2 separate regions of the Homo sapiens genome follow, and region 1 is linked to region 2. The links come from fine-mapping of genetic effects on gene expression. A gene starts in region 2. The other region holds a variant in brackets. All regions are shown on one strand. Distances are from middle to middle. Region 1 has its middle 11 kb from the start of SLC17A8. Region 2 holds the start of SCYL2 (SCY1 like pseudokinase 2).

The links. PIP is the estimated chance that this variant, and not a neighbour inherited with it, causes the effect. A credible set is the group of variants that fine-mapping cannot tell apart.
Region 1: its variant is the best candidate, but not a certain one, in a credible set for the expression of SCYL2 in whole blood (INTERVAL, PIP 0.56).

The regions. Positions count from the first base shown.
Region 1 is chr12:100,343,653-100,348,044 of GRCh38, reverse strand. No RefSeq gene overlaps it. Among named protein-coding and RNA genes, the nearest start is that of SLC17A8, 11 kb to the left of the region's middle. The variant G/A (reference allele first, on the strand shown) is at 2,209.
Region 2 is chr12:100,264,682-100,269,073 of GRCh38, reverse strand. SCYL2 (SCY1 like pseudokinase 2) reads right to left here and starts at 1,897. Exons shown (of 18, transcript NM_017988.6): 1 at 1,282-1,897. DEPDC4 (DEP domain containing 4) reads left to right here and starts at 1,995. Exons shown (of 10, transcript NM_001364818.2): 1 at 1,995-2,154. The coding sequence starts at 1,998. RefSeq lists enhancers at 1,263-1,322, 1,333-1,402, 2,073-2,152 and silencers at 1,473-1,552, 1,653-1,702.

The DNA.
Region 1 (4,392 bases), 79 kb before region 2:
CAGATGGTTTTTTTTGTTTGTTTTGCGACAGTCTCATTCTGTTGCCCAGGCTGGAGGGAGTGCAGTGGTGCGATTTCAGCTCACTGCAACCTCCGCCTCTCGGGTTCAAGCGATTCTCATGCCTCAGCCTCCCAAGTAGCTGGGGTTAGAGACGTGCACCAACACGCCCAGCTAATGTTTGTATTTTTAGTAGAGATGGGGTTTCACCATGTTGGCCAGGCTGGTATCAATCTCCTGACCTTTAGTGATCCATCCACCTCGGCCTCCCAAAGTGCTGGGATTACAGGCATAAGCCACATCGCCCAGCCAGGTGAAGTATTTGTTTTTCATTAAAGCAGAGTTTATTTTAGAGATCTATATCATCACAAAGTGAGTGGAAAAATCTATTGAGCACCTACTATGTGCCAGGAGCTGTGCTAGGTGCTTTGCACACTTTGCACACTAATCCTAATAGGCCTGTAAGGTGTGATCTTATTTCGTAGCTGAGAAAACTTATTCTGGTCAGTTAAGTGAAAGAGACAAGATTTACACTCATTCAGTCCGTGTAACTGTTTATACTCTACCTGATTCCAAAAGAGGATTTCTATGAACATAGATAAAAAACTTATTTTAAAAGGAAATCAGAGCAAATGAGAAATAAGGATTTTTTAAAAATCAGATAAAGCCAGAAGGTACGCATTGAATATTGCATACTATTATTATCCTATACATTTGCTACAGGTAAACAGCACATTTGGCTGAATCTCTTAGCTGTATTACCTAATCTGTTACTTTATGCGGACTTTAAAAGGTAGAAGCAGGCCAGGCGCGGTGGCTCACGCCACCCAGCACTTTGGGAGGCCAAGGCGGGTGGATCACCTGAGGTCAGGAGTTCGAGGCCAGCCTGGCCAACATGGCAAAACCCTGTCTCTACTAAAAATACAAAAAAAAAAAAAAAAAAAAAATCAGCCAGGCGTGGTGGCTGGTGCCTGTAAACCCAGTTACTTGGGAGGCTGAGGTACAAGAATCGCTTGGTCCCAGGAGGTGGTGGTTGCAATGAGCCGAGATCATGCCACTGCACTCCAGCCTGGACAACAGAGTGAGATTCATTCTCAAAAAAAAAAAAAAAAAGGAAGGGCAAACCACTTGCTTAGAAGCACATTGACTCCTGAACTGAAACCTGAAACCTCTCCAGTGGGTCCTCAAAGAAGCTATTTATGTGGGAGTGAACCAATGTCATCCCTGGCGTAAATACAAGTTCACAGCATAGTCAAAAGCTACCAGTGATAAAAGAAACCTGATGCATGGAGAAAACAAGGCAACCCAGGCACAAAGGTCTCAAGAGTGGGCTTAATTCAGAATTTCTAGAGAAAATGAATGGATTACTCAATTTTTGGCCTCCTCAATAAACATCTCTCAAAAACGAGATTTTGCCCATTGGGCAATAGAGAGTTAAATGTTGCTCTCTGACAAGTGGCTGGAGTACAGGTACCATTGCTGATTGAGGGCAGATTCACATAACCACTGTAGCTGGAGACAGACGTGACAACCTCTTATAAAATGTGAGCAGTCTAATGAGGACACCCACCTCAGTGAAAAGCCTTTCCATCTCTTTACAGATACAATCTTAAGAGTGCCAAATGTTAGAGACAAGATTTTCTTAAAAACAATTTTGGGGCCGGGCACAGCGGCTCACTCTTGTAATCCCAGCACTTTGGGAGGTCAAAGTGGGTGGATCGCTTGAGCTCAGGAGCTCGAGACCAGCCTGGGCAACATGGTGAAACCTTGTCTTTACCAAAAAAAAAAAAATTAAATTAAATTTTAAAAAATACAGAAATTAGCTGGGTGTGGTGGTGCATGCCTGTAGCCCCAGCTACTCAGGAGGCTTGGGGTGGGAGGATTGCTTGAGCCTGGAAGGTGGAGGTTGCAGTGAGCCAAGATCATGCCACTGCACTTCAGCCTGGGTGACAGAGCCAGACCCTGTCTTAGACAAAAAAAAAAAAAAAAAAAAAAAAAATTGGATCTGTTACAACACGCAAATGTGTAAAGTACCCTGCCCCACGTCTATAAAGTGTGAGTACTACAATTTTAGCCTGAAATTTTTTTAATAAAAGCACCTTTTTCTGGCTCCAAACTTCATACACCATATGCTTCTAGTGTGACCATGGATATGCCTCACATTTGAGTTTTGACTGATCATTATGTTCAAAAAGACTGGTAGGCTGAGGG[G/A]CATAGACTTGGGGCAAATCTATGTTTATTCCTACAATCAAACTACAGACATTAACGTCTCTATCTCATTTACCTTTATATAAAAGTCAAACACTGCCTTTACTAGCAACCAAGGTCACCACACAAAGGAACATATCCAAAACACAGGAGGAAAAAAGACAAAAATTGGAACTGCATCCAGTAGGTATAATTAAAGTAGCCAAACTGTATTTCTACTGTGGGAACTTTCAAAAGAACTTCCATAAAGTTTTAATATAGGATAGGTAAACACAATTCCAATGGCTTTTGATAGCAGTATATATTTATGGCCCCATTTTAAAATGACTTATTATTGGATTCAGGCTCTATCAGTGAGGGTAAGTAAGGAGACAGAAACCCCACACCAGATACTTGAACAGGGAAGTTTTAATATAATATTTGCTAACTAGTAGAAGCTGGTAAATTATTTGTAGGGGCAAAAGAGGACTCTAAGGGGCACAGAAGTAGCAGGTAAAAGGCAAATACTGCCTCTAGGCTGAAGAAAAGTGAAAAAAAAAAAAAAATGAACTAAAGACCAGGAGAGGCTCTCTTCCCCTACTCCACTCCCAAGCTGAGATCAGACTTCTCTGGAGAGGGTGTGGTTTCTACAGGAACATTCAGCCTGCCATGGTGAAGAAACTTGTCCGAGGGAATGGGCCACAGAATGGAAGACAGTTGCTTGATGGAGTGGCAGAGCTGGCATGGAAGCAGCCCATGGGAGCTGCTCCACAGTGGCTCAGGGTTGGGAGAAGGTAACCTGAGGTGCAGCTGGAGCTCCTCTGTTTGGACTGCTGGGCTTCTATGGTGGATAATAATGGGAGACCCACAACCATAAGTAAAGTATCTTCTTGCAGCTCTTGCTTTGCAGTGCCACTCTGGGGCCCTCATTTTTCCAGCTGGCAAAGGAAAAAAACAGTACAAGGCAAGGCAAAGGATGGGTTTGGAACTGAAACCATAAGTTGATAAATGCCATCATTCACTCCTTTAGTCACCGAGCTTCCATATACATCCACATTGTCTTATTTATTTTTTAGATGGAGTCTCACTGTCACTCAGGCTGGAGTGCAGTGGCACAATCTCGGCTCACTGCAACCTCCGCCTCCTGGGTTCAAACGATTCTCCGGCCTCAGCCTCCCAAGTAGCTGGGATTACAGGCGCCCCACACCTGGCTAATTTTTGGTATTTTTAGTAGAGACAGAATTTCACCATGTTGGCCAGGCTAGTCTCAAACTCCCGACTTCGGGAGCCGCTGTGGCTCAGGCCGGTTGCCGTGGCACTCGGGGAGGCGAGGCTACACGTTCGAGGCCAACCTGGTCAACATTGATTCAAACTCCCGACCTCAGGTGATCCACCCGCCTCAGCCTCCCAAAGTGCTGGGATTATAGGCATGAGCCACTGAGCCCAGACTATATCCACATTATCTAATGCAGCAGCTACTAGCCACGTGGCTCCTAAGTACCCGAAATATGACTAGTCTGAAGTTAAATGTGCTAAGTGTAAAATACACACTGCATCTCAAAGACTAAGTACCCAAAAAGATGTAAAATGTGAGTTTTTTATATCAATTCCATGCAGAAATATTTTAATTTTTTTTTTCTTAGATAGGGTCTCACTCTGTCACCCAGGCTGGAATGCAGTGGTGCGTTATCGGCTCACTGCAACCTCTGGGCTCAAGTGATCTTCCCACCTCAACCTCCCAAGTAGCTGGAACTACAGGCATATGCCACCATACTCAGCTAATTTTGTGTATTTTTTGTAGAGACGGGGTTTTACCGTGTTGCCCAAGCTGGTCTTGAACTCCTGGATTCAAGCTATCCACCCACCTTGGCCTCCCAAAGTGCTGGGATTACAGGCATGAGCCACCATACCTGGCAATATTAAAATATAATAAAATCAATTTCAGGGCCTGGAGCAGTGGCTCATGCCTGTAATCTCAGCACTTTGGGAGACTGACGTGGGCGGAGCATTTGAGGTCATGACTTCGAGACCAGCCTGGCCAACATGGTGAAACCCTGTCTCCACTAAAATTACCAAAATTAGCTGGGAGTGGTGGCGGATGCCTGTAGTCCCAGTTAGTTAGGAGGCTGAGGCAGAAGAATCTCTTCAACCTGGGAGGTAGAGGCTGCAGTGAGCCGAGATCGCTGCAGTGAACTGAGATCACAGCAC
Region 2 (4,392 bases):
AGTCACTAAGTCTTGTTTGGAAAACTACAGGAGACCACAGTAGATGCAAGCAGACCATAATCAGGAGGCTACGGAAGTAGTCAGGATGAGAGATGGTGGTGGCTTGGAACAGGACTACTGTTACAGACGAAGAGCAGACAAGAGTCAAGAGATATTCAAGAGGCAAAATCAACAGGACTTCATGAGAGGCTGAGTATGAAGCACGACAGAGGAATTGTCAAACTTCAACTTCTATACAAAGGAATGGATAGTGATGCTACCCACGGAGTTAAACACAGTAAGAGGAGCTATTTTTCTTCTTGGGGTGGGGGAAGGGAGGTATATCATGAATTTCAAACATGTGAATATGAGTAGTTATTCCCAGTAACAGGGTTGATCTGTCTAGAAAGTATTCCACAGTATAGAAGTACAATGTGCCTGTATTTATTTTACTGGGTATTTATGAATCTTAGAGACAAAATAGGTTTCTGCATGTGAGTAATGTAAATCTAAAGAGAATGAAGGCCCTTACCTTCCATTAGGTTCCCTTCCTTTACACAATCCCCCAAAAGCATTCTTTATGATTACAGTTTAATGTTGCCTCAAGAAGTAATTTATATACTCAGCTGATTTCATTTTTAAATATTTTAAAAATATTTGTGCTAAAGAATAAGACAGCAAACCAAACAACAACAAACCTGCAAAGTCCAAAAGGAATCTTCAAGCACCTGACTTTCAAGCCATCACCAGAACATAATGGGGTTTTACAGTGGCAGGCTGATTTGGAGCATTTTTGCTAAACTATTTATTTTTCAGAACGGAGATAGGCTACTTAGAAAACTCACTCATAGTATCCAATGTTTTTAGAAAGTGTCATCACAAATAATTCCTGAGTTTGACGTACTAAAAAATAGTTGACACCTTCCAATGAAGTCACTACAGGCATAGCGCTTTTAAGCAGCTTGTCTGGAGCCTCCTCGAGTGCCTTAGAGGGTGGATTTGATAATATGGCCTCCTTAATTACGGATCACAGGTATGTGCTCAAAGTCCAATAAGTTTTTGCAAGCTTTATCGGTCTAAACCCTCCTCCATCCGTATTCTCCCGTTTAGAAAAACAAGACTGCAGGAGTAACCGTGGGGTTTTTTCTCTTAACAAAACCCCTGCCCCACCCACCTCACACACAATAACCTTCCATTCCAGAACTAAAGCTACTGTCAGAGAAGGACGGCGGGCGGCAGGGCCCTGGCTGGTGACCCAGGCTACCGGATTCCGGACCTCAGAACTGAGGTGAACTCTCTCACCCGGTCCTAGAGTAGTGTCCAATGTCCCCGAAAGGTACTACGTTCTCCACCACCGAAACCCGAGCTCTCGAGCCGGCATGGGGGGCTCTCCCTCCGGCAGCTGACTTCGATCCCGGGTCTCCCGTCGCCTCAAGGCCTCTTTCGAGGACTCGGCCCTCTCGGATCCGCTCCCCGGAGCTCGCTGCTCGTCCAGCCCCGCTTTGCGCGGGCGCCGACCGCCGATCGCCCGGCCGGCCGCCGGCAGGCCCGTCACCAGGCAACACCCACCAGCCTGAGCGGCCCTGGGAGGCCTAACCCGGGCGCGAGTCCTCCATTCCCTCCTCGCCGGCTCCGGGAGCCCAGGCGAGAGAGCCGCCGGTGAGGGAGGTCGGTCGGTGCCGGCGGCCGGTCACTTACCTCTTCCTTCTTCCAGGAGGGGCGGTGCTGGGGCTCTTTCCCCCCGCCCCCCTAATAAACGCCTCCTGGCTGTTCCTGCTCTGCCTTCGTGCCTGGCCACTGACTCTGGCTTTACTCCATATCCTCCGCCGCCCCCGCGGCCGCAAACGTCGGAGCTAGAAGGAAAGGGGTGGGGAGGGGAGGGACCGGGGACGAAGAGTAAGGGAGGGGGAAAAAGACTAAAAGACCTGCCGGCCGGGGGCATGACGTCACTTCCTGCCGGTTCGGAAGAGGCGGAGCCAGTACTTCTCTCCGCCCCGGGTGTCAGGTGGGGCGGGGCTATGGTGCCAGGGGAGGAGCCAGCGCGCGAGCTTATGGCGGTTCTTTTGACTCCGAGGTTCCGTAGACTTGTCAGTCAGAACGAGCTTCCGGGCCCAGGGCTGAACGGGCCAAGTTCCAGGAACCGTAGAGATGGCTTCTGCCGGAAAAGGAGGACAGGTAGCCCTGTATATCCTAGCCAAATGTGCAGTGAAGGTGGAGGGGGCAGCTGAAGGGAGCAGGCGGCTGGGACTCTGCTCCTCATTGGTCCAGGGCCCCGCCCATTTCCTAGCCCCGCCCCCTTCCTGCCCTACCAGGCACTGGACTGGGGGACCCAGGACTGAGGCTTTTTAGGGGTTACTGTGGTGAAGTGCCCTTGGAGCGTGCAGGAAAGCGTTTTTTCTCAAACTTTAATATACATACGAATCCCTAGGATCTTGTGAAAGTGCAAATTCTGATTGAGGAGTAGGGTCTGATAATCTGCGTTTCTAATACATGTCCAGATGGCACCAATGCTGCTGGTCCCTAGGCTACACTTACAGCAACAAGGGGTTAATGTACTAGAGGGCAAATTCCTTGAGCTAGAGGAGTTATTTCTTTAATCTAGCCTACTTGTTTAATGAAGGTTAGAGAGGTAGACTGTCTATGGAAAACAGGCTGTACCGCTGTATTTTCCACCTACCCCGTCGAGTACCCTCCTGCCCACCTCCGCCCATCACTTTCTGGCCTCCCCTCCTCAGTCTCCGCTCTGCCCACAATGTCTGGGGATAAGATTTCTTGAGTGATTAGACGGGTAACTTCTGTTACAGAAGGAATTTGAGGGTGGTGGATTTTTATTTCTGTCATTTTATCGTAAACATATGTATAGTTGGGCATACTTTTGCGGTTATGCATAGTTGGAGAAGAGAGCTTAAGTTCTTGGATTCTACCCACTTCCCCCTGCAAATCTAGAAAAAACATTCTAGAAGTTCTAAGTTATTCCCTTATCATTCTTTAATTTTTTTAATTAATTTTAATTAAATTTAATTTTAATTAAAATTTTACTGGGGTACGGAAGAATGAAGAATGACTGCGAACTATAGGTTTCTTTGTGGAATGATGCAATGGTCTGAAATTAGATAATAGTGATGGCTGCACAACTTTGTGAATGTACTAGAAACACTGAATTGTACACTTTAAAAGGGTACATCCTCTTTCATCAGCCACCATTACAATCCTTCTTCCCCAAGGTTACTCGTTTGAAGTTTATTCTTCCAGATCTTTCTATTTATTTACATACATTTTTACATAGGTTGGGAATTCATTTTTACCTAAGTAGGATAATAATATACAAGTTGTTCTGCTCAGCTCATTTTTAAAAAATTTTTGTTTTGGGTTTTTCTTTTTCCCTACTTAATGAGATCCTTGCACACTATAAACATAGCTCTACTTCATTCTTTCTAATGGCTGGCTACTATTCTATAGTAAGGGTATACCATAATTTATTTAACTGTTTTTTTCAGGTAATAGACTGTTTTTTTTCCCTTGCCCAGGCTGGAGTGCAATGGCGTGATCTCGGCTCACCGCAACCTCCACCTCCTGGTTCTAGCAATTCTCCTGCCTCAGCTTCCCAAGTAGCTGGGATTACAGGCGTGCGACACCATGCCCAGCTAAATTTTTTTGTGTTGTATTTTTGGTAGAGATGGGGTTTCACTATGTTGGCCAGTGTGGTCTTGAACTCCTGACCTCCACCTGCCTCAGCCTCCCAAAGTGCTGGGATTACAGGCTTAAGCCACTGCGCCTGGCCAACTGTTTTTGTTTCTAATTGAGACAGGGTCTCACTCTGTTGCCCTGACTGGAGTGCAGTGGCAGGGTCACAGCTCACTGCAGCCTCGGCCTCCCTGGCTCAAGTGATCCTCCCACCTCAGCCTCCTGAGCAGCTGGGACTATAGGAGCACGCCACCATGCCCCACTAATTTTTTGTATTTTTTATAGAGTCTCCCTGTGTTGCCCAAGCTAGTCTTGAAATCCTGAGTTCATGCGATCCTTCTGCTTCAGCCTCCCAAAGTGCTGGGATTACAGGCATGAGCCACTGAACCTGGCCAGTAATAGACATTTTGATTGTTTTTAGGTTTTCATTATTTCTCAGCAATTTTTTTTTCTTTTTGCCCAGAGAAGTGGGATTTCTGTTATTTGGAGAGTAAGTTCAGCATGTGATAAGGCAATTTTTTTTCATTATGCAATATGTCCATGTAAAATAAGGCACATCTTTATCTAAACCCCTTAATCGGGAGCAACAGTGGAAGCACTTTCTAGAGCCCAATATCTCTACAATGTTTGGTAGTTTCACTTCATAATTTAGATAATTGGGTTATATTCAAGTATTCAGCTCAAGTGGGTATGTGACCCTCTTTCATTTTTCAGCAAACTTTTTTTTTT